Homo sapiens: one gene and its partner. The protein of the gene in region 1 binds, or shares a complex with, the protein of each later gene. Each region holds a gene or a part of one and is shown in the gene's direction. Other genes may lie near its edges.

Region 1 (3,693 bases):
CCCAGCACTTTGGGATGCCAAGGTGGGCGGATCAGGAGGACCAGCCTGGCCAACATGGTGAAACCCCGTCTCTATTAAAAATACAACAATTAGCCTGGCGTGGTGGCAGGCGCCTGTAATCCCAGCTACTTGGGAGGCTGAGGCAGGCGAATAGCTTGAACCCAGGAGGCGGAGGTTGCAGTGAGTCGAGATCACGCCACTGCACTTCAGCCTGGGACAGAGCGAGACTCCGTGTCAAAAAAAAAAAATTGTTATGCCAAGTTCATGACATTGAATGTTGGAGTTCTGAGGTACCCTGTGGTGTCTGAGAGCATAGAGGAGGCAGCAGTAATGTTTGCTGAAGGTCAGACCGGGACAGACATACTTTAGATAGCTTGATCCAGAACTCTTAAGAAAATATGTTGAATTGAGTCTTTATACTTTGGTCTTTTTCTTGCCTGGGATATTGCTATGCAGTATGCCACTATTGCTGAGAGGTGGTTTTGTAGATGATGGAAGCCTGGCTGGGTGTGGTCAGCAGCACGTGGGAGCCAGGCTCAGCTGCCTAACCCTGAAGCCTTCTAAGCTGATTTTTCTGTAAAGGAGGATGCCTCGTCCTCCTTTACATCTGAACTTCTGGACGACTTTGATATTTGCATCTGGGCTGTACCCACAGGTGTCAGCGACAGGCAGAAAGCAGCGAGGTGGCTTTCTATTGAATGTTCCTGGGTGATGGAATGTGGATCTGGATGTGTTTGGCAGTGCTTCTCAAACCTTAATTACAGACACATCACCTGAGGATCTTAGATTCTGATTCAGTGGGTTTGGGGCGGACCCTGAGATTCCATGTGTCCAACAAGTATCCAAGTGGTGTCAATGCTGCTAGTCAGTATCATCCTTTGACAGGTGTTAGGGGAAGTTTGGGACCTCTTAGGACACCAGCAGCAGTCCTTCCATGCTTAGTGGGTGCTTTTTAAATTTTGTTTAAAAATTTGTTGCAGTGATGCCATTGATCAGATTTGGAGTCTCTGAATATGGTTAAACTGAGGCTCTCAAGTGAGAGTTTGAAGTTAAGTTTGAATTGTTAGTTAAAGCCTGAGACCAAGTATCTCTCTGATCAGCCTCATCTACGAGGCTTTTATGGATCTGGATCTTTCACAGATAATCTCCATAGTCAGATAATTGCTCAGAGATTAGTGGCTTGCCTGACGTTACACAGCAACCAAGAGATGGGACTAGACTGAGAAACCCAGTCACCTCTCCTCACTTAATGGGAAGAAAGCAGGATGTTGCCTAGCATTAGAATTTTTAGTCAGTATCCTTATACATTCTCCACGTTAGCAGCCATGTGATACAACTACTCTGTAGGAGGTGAGAAGGGCAGGGGAATAGGAGAGCAGCTGTCATGGTTAGAGGGGATAAGAGAAACTAGCATGGTCTCTGCACACACTACGAGCCCAACATGTTTAAGTAAGGGGACCTGTAACAAGGATGGTGGGTTTGCCATAGTTAATCAGGCTTCTGTGTTGGGGTGAGAGCATTCCTAGGGACCATTTCTTCTAACCCACAGAGGCCATCGGGAGTCTCCCACCCTTCTCCAAACAGAACAAGCAGCTCGTGCAACAGCTCCTGTGTCTGGTGCTGACACAGGCATGGCATCCTCCTTTTTGTTCCCCCAACCCAGGTCTGCTTCAAATACTTCTGCCGGAGCTGCTGGCACTGGCGGCACAGCATGGAGGGCCTGCGCCACCACAGCCCCCTGATGCGGAACCAGAAGAACCGAGATTCCAGCTAGAGGAGCTGGCCTTGCCCAGTGGCCTGTGGCGCCCAAAGCTGGCAGGTCAGGCAAGCAGCCTGCACCACCCTGCCACTGGCGACCAGGGAGCTGGCTTCCCAAGGACAAGGGAAAATTGTAGTCACCTTTGCACTTGCTGAATCTGTCTTTGTTTCTGCACTAATTAATGCACATTGAGTTTTGTCAGGTTTTGTTTTCAGGGGGTGTACCAAGGGCAAGGACCCTCTGGCTTACCCTCCAAGCGACTCTGTAGTTTTCCCAGATTTTAGTTCCTCATTTTGCAGATGAAAAGCGGGGAAAAAAAAAAAAAAAAAAAAAACTACGTGTCCAGAAGGTATTGAGGTATTGACACGGATGCCTACACCTAGGTTTATTTATTAAAAGCGCTTTTTTACATTCCTTGCAATACTGATGGTGATGATGCGCAGGTCTCATTGGTTTCATTCTTGCAGTTGCCATACAGTGCCTTTCCATTTATTTAACCCCCACCTGAACGGCATAAACTGAGTGTTCAGCTGGTGTTTTTTACTGTAAACAATAAGGAGACTTTGCTCTTCATTTAAACCAAAATCATATTTCATATTTTACGCTCGAGGGTTTTTACCGGTTCCTTTTTACACTCCTTAAAACAGTTTTTAAGTCGTTTGGAACAAGATATTTTTTCTTTCCTGGCAGCTTTTAACATTATAGCAAATTTGTGTCTGGGGGACTGCTGGTCACTGTTTCTCACAGTTGCAAATCAAGGCATTTGCAACCAAGAAAAAAAAAATTTTTTGTTTTATTTGAAACTGGACCGGATAAACGGTGTTTGAGCGGCTGCTGTATATAGTTTTAAATGGTTTATTGCACCTCCTTAAGTTGCACTTATGTGGGGGGGTGGGGTTGATAGAAGTTTTTAATCACAAAGTCACAGGACTTTTTTCTTTTGTAACTGAGCTAAAAAGGGCTGCTTTTCGGTGGGGGCAGATGAAGGCTCACAGGAGCCCTTTCTCTTAGAGGGGGCAAGTACCCTTCCCTTATATCTTTAATTTGAGGAATGTATGAGATAACAGTTGCAGTTGACTGAAATGCCACTGGAATTTGAAAACTTGACTTTTTTTTCTTTCCTTTTTTTTTTTTTTTTTTTTTTTAAAAAGAAACAAAAAACCCACAAAAACTACTTGCCCCTCCTAGGGAAGCTGTGTGCCAAAGAACCAGTGTCATAACCCCTCCCTCCTGCTGAGCTGACGTTGCATTGTTGCATATCCCAGCTACTCTGTGGGTTTTGTGAAGCTGTGTGTGAAGTCTCTACCTCATTGTAGTATATGCAGGCAAGACTGCACTCTCCTACAGATGTGTGGAGTAAGCTGTGGTGTAGTTTTTTTGGCACATAATAAACACGTTGCAGCAGAGTTCTGGTTTTGTCTCTGTGTTTGAGGTCTGGGAGCAAGGGGCTAACGGGAGGGAGTAAGGGGGTAATGGCACAGCCACAGCTTGTTTCCTTGGATTTCTGTGATGGAGATCCTGGCCCAGGATAATGGTGGGACCATGTGGGAGACCTGCCCTGTGAGTACTTCTTGGTCCCTTCCATCGTCAAATATACTTTGGAGATGCTTCTCCAGTGGATGGGTGCTTCTAGCCCAAATATAAAAAGTCCTCATATCTTAGCTTCTCGGGGGTCCTCACAGCCTCCAGGCCCAGCTTAGAGAATGCTGGAGGCACAGCTGCTCACGTGCCAGCAGAAGCCACTTGTTCTCAGCTTCTCCTGGAAGTCTTGGCCTATTACTTCTTCGGAGGCTGCTCATCCTCTTGGACCCACCTATGATGATGCAGTTCCTTTCTGAGAGGGAGTGATTGGGTTTTTGCTGTTCAGAGAGCCCTATCAACGGAACTTTCTCAGAGCTCACAGGATTTCTGGCAAGGTCTGCTGATTTTTTTTT
Region 2 (7,649 bases), on another chromosome or scaffold:
TGCAGCCCTGAACTGGACTCAACACAGTCCTCCTGCATCAGCCTCCCAAGTAGCTGGGCAGTGTGTACCACCACGCCAGCTAATTTTAAAATTATTATTATTATTTATTTTATTTGAGACAGAGTCTCGCTCTGTCACCCAGGCTGGAGTGCAGTGGCACGATCTCAGCTCACTGCAACCTCTGCCTCCTGGGTTCAAGCAATTCTCCTGCCTCACCTGAGGCAGGAGACTGGGACTACAGGCGTGCCCCATGACACCAGTTAATTTTTGTATTTTTAGTAGAGATGGGGTTTCACCATGTTGGCCAGGCTGGTCTCAAACTGCTGACCTCAAGTGGTCCACCCTCCTCGGCCTCCCAAAGTGCTGGGATTACAGGCGTGAGCCACCGCGTCTGGCATTTTGAAATTTTTTGTACAGACAGGGTCTCCCCTATGTTGCCCAAAATAGTCTTGAACTCCTGACCTCAGGTGATCCTCCAGCCTTGGCCTCCCAAAGTACTGAGATTATAGGCACAAGCCATCATGCCTGGCCCTAGCACTTCTTTTCAAGACAAAACGTGATAGTAGACAGTGAGGCAGTGTGGCACTATAAGTGTGGCTACATGATCCCAGCCTCAAGAGTCAGACCGACTAGATTTGAATTTTGATTGATCCTTAGCAGTGGGATTTCAGCCTCTGCGACCCTCAGTTTCATCCTCTAAAAATGAGCACTACAGTGGCACCCACATCTCAATGAGACCACGCAATTAGAATAGCAGGATGCCTGGCACATAATGTTATTTGCTGTATTCTTCCTCTAGGTGTGAGTAGACAGGAGACCAACTGTCCCTCTGTTCCCCTGGCCACAGTTCTTTGTGTCAACCTTGCTCCTGTCCTGTTTTATTTTTTAAATTAAAAAAATTTTTTTTTTGAGATGGAGTTTCACACTTGTTGCCCAGGCTGGAGTGCAATGGCATGATCTCAGCTCACTGTAAACCCCGCCTCCTGGGTTCATGTGATTTTTTTGCCTCAGCCTCCTGAGTAGCTGGAATTACAGGTGCATGCCACCACACCCAGCTAATTTTTTTTAGTAGAGACAGGGTTTCACCATGTTACCCATGATGGTCTTGATTTCCTGACTTCATGATCCGTTCACCTCAGCTTCCCAAATTGCTGGGATTACAGGTGTCAGCCACTGCGCCCGGCCCTGAATTTCTTATTTCTTATACCACTCCTCCCACCAGTGGTGGGCATTAATACATTTGAGTGACTCTAGAAACTTTCTGGAATAACCTAGAGTTTTTATCATACGGGGATAATTATATGTCCCGTAATATTTATATGACATTCCATAGTTTGCTTTTCTGTGCTTTTTTTTAATTATTATTTTTTATTATTATTTTTTGAGATGGAGTTTTGCTCTTTTTGCCCAGGCTAGAGTGCAATGGTGCAATCTCGGCTCACTGCAACCTCTGCCTCCCGGGTTCAAGCGATTCTCCTGCCTCAGCCTCCCAAGTAGCTGGGACTACAGGCACGAGCCACCACACCTGGCTAATTTTTTGTATTTCCAGCAGAGACAAGGTTTCACCATGTTGGCCAGGCTGGTCTCAAACACCTGAGCTCAAGTGATCCGCCCGCCTCAGCCTCCCAAGGTGCTGGGATTATAGGTGTGAGCCGTTGGGCCAGCCATGATTTAGCAATTTTGAAACTACTTTTGTGTGTGTGGGTGTGGGCACATGGGCCCATGTAATACACACAAACAGGGTTGAACAAATAAGTAAACTTGTAGATAATGAGAGCTGGGTGTCTCACTGTGGAGAAGGAAGTTACAAATAAAACAGGAGATGGGAATGCTTAAAATGAACCTTGTAGGACTGGATTTGGAGGCATCAGTCTGAATTCATGGTTTTCGTTTAACAGATATATTGATACATATAGATGTGTGTATACATATGTATATTTCCTTGCTCTATCCACTTAGAGGGACCAGAAACAGTGACACTCCAGGAACAGTGAGCACCCATCCTGGAACATAAAAACACTAGTGGGAAAACAGGATTGGGGGGAATTTGTGGTTTAGTTAATAGTATTATATTGATATTGGTTTCTTAGTGTTGATAATTATATTATAGCAGGGTTTCTAAGCTTTGGCATTGTTGACTTTTTTGGGTTGGATTTTTTTTTTTTTTTTTTTTTTTTGAGACAGGCTGGAGTGCAGTGGCACGATCTTGGCTCACTGAAAGCTCCACTCCAGGGGTTCAAGCAATTCTCCGCCTCAGCCTCCCGAGTAGCTGGGATTACATGCGCCCGCCACCACACCTAATTTTCGTATTTTTAGTAGAGATGGGTTTTCACCATCTTGGCCAGGCTGGTCTTGAACTCCTGACCTCTTGATCCACCCACCTTGGCCTCCCAAAGTGGTGGGATTACAGGCGTGAGCCACCGCACCCAGCCTTTTATTTTTATTTATTTATTTATTTTTTGAGACAGAGTCTCCCTCTGTCACCCAGGCTAGAGTGCTGTGGCAAGATTATGGCTAATTGCAGCCTCTTAACTCCTAGACTCAAGAGATCCTCCCACCTCAGCCTCCCAAGTAGCTGGGATTACAGGCACGTGCCACCACACCCAGTGAATTATTTTTGTAGAGATAGGGTCTTGCCATGTTGCCCAGGCTGGTCCCCAACTCTGGGCTCAAGCGATCCTCCTGCCTTGGGCTCCCAAAGCCCTGGATTACAGGTGTGAGCCACCACACTCAGCCCTTGGATTGGATAATTCTTTTGGTGGGGGCTGTGCCTTGAAGGATGTTAGCAGCATCCTTGGCATCTAATACTAAATGCCAGTAGCCAGTAGTATCTCCTGTTCCAAAATGTCTGAAGGTGTTGTAACAACCAAAAATGTATCAAGATGTTGCCAAATGTCCCTTGGGAAACAAAATCGCTACTGGTTGAGAATTCTGTTCTATTGTTTATTTAAGACGCTAATATTAGGGAAGTTTGGGTGAAGGGTACATGAAAACCCTACTGTTTTTGTAACTGCCCATGTCTAAAATTATCTTTATAAAAAGTATCTTTTTAATATTATGCTAATACTTGTAAAAAATGTTCTATTAAAACTTAAACTTTTTTTGTTTTTTGAGATGGAGTCTCGCTCTGTCACCTACGCTGGAGTGCAGTGGTGCGATCTCGGCTCACTGCAACCTCCGCCTTCCAGGTTCAAGTAATTCTCCTGTCTCAACCACCCGAGTAGCTGGAATTAAAGGTGCCCACTATCACGCCTGGCTAATTTTTGTATTTTTAGTAAAGACAGGGTTTCACCATGTTGGCCAGGCTGGTCTCGAACTCCTGACTTCAGGTTATCCACCCACCTCGGCCTTCCAAAGTGCTGGGATTACAGGTGTGAGCCACCGAGCCTGGCTTGAGTGCTTTATGTGGATTAATTTATTTAATGTTCACATCAAACAGAAGGATGTAATTGCTTATCCCCGCTTTGCAGATTGGGAAACCGAAGTACAGAGTAACGTTAAGTAATCAGTTCAAGGTCGCATAGCAAGTGTCAGTCCCAGGCTTTAAACCCAAGTCTGGCTCCAGACTTCTCTTAGCCTTCTACTGCATCCTGCGTCTAATTTGTTGTGGGCAGGTTTCCCTATGAGTTCACTTCACTGAGCCTCATTCTTTTTAACGGTCACATAGGGTTCTATGCTAGGTGAACTGTAGTTGCACCCTTTGCTGTCAGTGTCTTCAACTCCCATATCTACCCACAGTTCCCCAACTCTGGGTCCCCAAATACCTCCCCTGTGTCCCACGGGCTCTGCAGACTCTATTTTAAGTTGGCTAAAACTGAGCCCATCTCCTCCCACCTGCACCTCCTCCGTGTTCTTATATGAATGTCAATGTCGGCACCCACTGGTCACCCAGGATGGAGGAAGGAGCCAGACTGCGAGGGAATAAAGGAAGTAAGCAGGTTCCAAAGGACGTGGAAGGCCTTTGGGTCCAGAGCCTAGGGAAAAGTTGAGCCCTGCAAAAAATAAAAGAGGCTGGGTTAGCTTTGGACATCTGTGGGAAACAGGTGGGAAGAGGGAGGATGGAGGAGCCAAATTTAAGCATCGGGTACTTAGGTGCTCATCTCCAAGGCAACTGCATTGCTATGGCAACAGCAGAGGCAGCACCGCCCCGCCCAAGTACCTCCTGGACCGCCGTTACCTCTGCACCAGCCAGACTCTTCCGCATGGGAGGGCTGGGGGCTTGCGGACCTCCGGGAACAGCTCAGGCAGGCGGGAGTTGCTGCGGCATTAGCCAATCCATAAGCTCTATCCCGCCTGGGTGGGCTCTGCGGCGACGCGCGCCAAGAAGGGGTCGGGAGTTTTTTGGCGCTCGCTAAAGGGCGTTGAGAAGGGCGGGCCCGCGTCGCTTCGGACCACTCAGGAGCCGAGGAGAGCGAGTGGGCGGGGCCAGGCTGAGGCTGGCCGGGGGCGGGGCGCAGGGATAACGTGGGAGGGTCCGCCCAGCCTTTCTTCTACCCAATAGAAGGCCAGAAAGCCAATCCGGACCGTTAGGGAGCCCAATGGGCGTCGCCGCCAGGCCCCGTTGCAGAGCGCGTCTAGCCAATAGGCAGCGGCGGCGGGCGGGCGCGGGCGACAGGCGGCGCAGCTGAGGCGGAGCAGGCGCTGCGGCAGGAGGGAAGATGGCGGACGAGGAGAAGCTGCCGCCCGGCTGGGAGAAGCGCATGAGCCGCAGCTCAGGTGCCGCGGGGGTCGGGGCTGGGGCGGGACTGCGCGGGCCCGCGTAAGCAGGGCTCGAGCTCGCCCCTTGGGCGCGGCGGCAGCGCTGCCTCCCTCCCATGGGGTCCTGGCTCTTCCGCGTCGTCCCCGGGGTAACGGCCCCGGCCCGCCCTGTTGTGGGGACTGCGAGCCTCAGGAGCCGCCGGGAAGCCTGAGGAAGCTGAGGCAGGGGGCTGGGCGGGTGAGGGTCCGGGGAGTCCGGGGCGATGGCCCTGGCCCTGCCGGCCCGGCTGATACCTCTCGGCCTAATGCACCTGACACCCCGGGGGACGTCTCTGCACCTTGCTGGGCCCGGGGGCACCCCTGGGAGGGAGACACCCCAGTACCCTGCAAAGGGCGTAGGGTGTTGCCCGGCCTCGGGTCCACAACCTACCCCTGCTAACACCCCTACTGTGTACACCTAATGCTGAGTCTGCGACATCGCCCGTGACATTCTGCCAGACGATGGCCCCTGTGCTTAGGCCCGATTTAAGGGTTAGCCACAATGATAATATTGCCAGTAACAGGGCATGTTTTTCTCTGTGTCAAGCGCTTTAAGTTCTCTCTGAATTGCCGCAACTCTGGGAGCCAGGTAGTTATTACTTCCACCTTACCAGCAAGGAAACTGAGGTCAGAAAACTGAAGGAACTCGTCCAAGATCATTCATTTCAGGGGCCGGGGGTTGGATTAGGACCTAGGCAGTTTGCCTACAAATCCCCCTCCCCGTGTCACTGCAAACTCCTGAGGAGCAGGCCCAGCATCTGTGGGCAGGTCCCGAGTCACTCTGCTGCCTCTAGAGCCCATAGCAATCGCATTTGCAATAATAATTCTCCTTGGTTGAGTGCCAGGTTCTGGTGAACTGTTTGGATACATGGACTCTCCTCATTAACCCCATGAGGTTTGATCTCCTTATTCTCTATTCCCCATTTTTCAGATGAGAAAACTGAGGTGCAGGGAGATTAGAGCCCATTGCCAAGGTTTTAGAGTGAGTCAGTAGCTCAGCTGCATTTGCACCTGGAACCCGCGCTCTCGCCCACCCTGCTCTAGCCCTGGCCTGTGGCTGGGACCTCCAGCATAAACCGGATGCTCTGCCCAGCTCTGGGCCCATTTCTGCTGTTTCTGCTCAGTTCAACCCTGATGGCTTCCTTTATGGGTGACACTCCATGTCACCCAGGCGAACTGTCAGCCTTTGGAGTGGCACCCAGTAGGGTCTTTACTTCCAGTTTCTTGTTCACAGTCTTCACTCCTTCATACCCCTCACTCCCTGGGTAACATCGGGCCACCAGTAATGCTGGTTCCTAGCTCTGCAACACCATGCACGGTGTAGTAGCTAAGAGCAGAGCTTTCGGGTGTGAAGTACCTGAGTACAGTTCCTGCCTTCCCCTGTGTGTGCCTGGAACAGAGTAAACACTCAGGAAGCGTTACCCACTGCTGCCATTCCCAGAGATGCAAAAGGTGAGGTCTCCGTTTTGCCATCTATACAATAGAGATAATAAAGGCTATCCCACTCTTAATGTGTGCCAGTTTCTGTCCTAGGCATTTTGTAGATGTGTGAGCTTATTTAGTGCTTTCTTATTATTATTTTTGGAGATGGTCTCACTGTGTGGCTCAGGCTGCAGTGCAGCCTCTGCCTCCCAGGCTTAAGCAATCCTCCCACCTCAGCCTTTCAAGTAGCTGAGACCACAGGCGTGTACCACCCACCCATGGCTAATTTTTTATTTTTTATTTTTTATTGTTTGTTTGTTTGTTTTGAGACAGAATCTCACTCTGTCACCCAGGCTGGAGTGCAGTGGCATGATCTTGGCGCACTGCAACCTCTGCCTCCCGGGTTCAAGTGATTCTCCTGCCTCAGCCTCCCGAGTAGCTGGGATTACAGGTGCCTGCCACCACGTCTGGCTAATTTTTGTATTTTTAGTAGAGACGAGGTTTCACCATGTTGGCCAGGCTGGTCTCGAGCTCCTAACCTCAGGTGATCCACCTGCCTCAGCCTCCCAAAGTGCTGGGATTACAGGCCTGAGCCACTGCGCCCAGCCAGCCTGTTGTTTTTGTTTTTGTTTTGAGACAAGAGTCTCACTCTATCGCTCAGGCTGGAGTGCAGTGGCATGATCTTGGCTCACTGTAGCCTCCACCTTCCAGATTCAAGCAATTCTCCTGCCTCAGCCTCCCGAGTAGCTGGGATTACAGACATACACCACAACGCCCGGCTAATGTTGGTTTGTTTGTTTGTTTGTGACGGAGTTTTGCTCTTGTTGCCCAGGCTGGAGTGCAGTGGCACAATCTCAGCTCACTGCAACCTCCATCTCCCGGGTTCAAGCGATTCTCCTGCTTCAGCCTCCCCAGTAGCTGGGATTACAGGTGCCTGCCACCATGCCGGGCTAATTTTTTATATTTTTAGTAGAGATGGGGTTTCACTGTGTTGGCCAGGCTGGTCTTGAACTCCTGACCTCAGGTGATCCACCCCACCTTGGCCTCCCAAAGTGCTGGGATTACAGGTGAGAGCCACCGTGCTTAGCCCTTTTAAAAATGTTTAAAAATTATTATTTAGTCCTTTCAATGACCCTAAGGTAGGAACTGTTATCTCCATTTTGCAGGTGAGAACACCAAGGCCCAGGGAAGATATATCACATTTGAACCCAGATTCAGATTTGAATCCAGGTGGCCTGGCTGCTGAGTGCATGGTTTGAGTCACTCCCTGTCCCCCAGCTTCCTCTGTTCCATCACTCTGGGTTATTTTCCTCCTTGAAGTTATCAGGGATTGATACTATCCTGTGTTTCATTTGCTTGTTTAGCACCTGTCTGCTCTCACCTAGAATGTTAGCTCTCTAAGGGCAGGGACTGTATCCTGCCACATTGGCCCACGTCTGGAGAGCCTGTGGCACATGGTGGATACACCATGGATTTGTTGAATGAAGGCG

Evidence for each region. The genes of interacting proteins can lie anywhere in the genome.
Region 2: the proteins of CPEB1 (region 1) and PIN1 are in contact, whole or in part, in an NMR structure (PDB 2N1O), measured with the Homo sapiens proteins. Residues at the interface, in NP_001352172.1 of Homo sapiens: Arg206, Ile207, Ser208, Pro209, Pro210, Leu211, Pro212, Phe213; in NP_006212.1 of Homo sapiens: Arg17 (codon at 4,707), Tyr23, Ser32, Gln33, Trp34, Glu35.

What each region holds. Positions count from the first base shown.
Region 1 is NC_000015.10:82,542,673-82,546,365, reverse strand, and holds the end of CPEB1 (cytoplasmic polyadenylation element-binding protein 1), read left to right. Parts: intron 1-1,663; coding exon 1,664-1,774; 3' UTR 1,775-3,165; downstream 3,166-3,693.
Region 2 is NC_000019.10:9,830,687-9,838,335, forward strand, and holds the start of PIN1 (peptidyl-prolyl cis-trans isomerase NIMA-interacting 1), read left to right. Parts: upstream 1-4,631; 5' UTR 4,632-4,658; coding exon 4,659-4,716; intron 4,717-6,136; exon of another isoform or gene 6,137-6,180; coding exon of another isoform or gene 6,181-6,189; intron 6,190-7,325; coding exon of another isoform or gene 7,326-7,389; intron 7,390-7,649. UniProt on the Homo sapiens protein: Peptidyl-prolyl cis/trans isomerase (PPIase) that binds to and isomerizes specific phosphorylated Ser/Thr-Pro (pSer/Thr-Pro) motifs.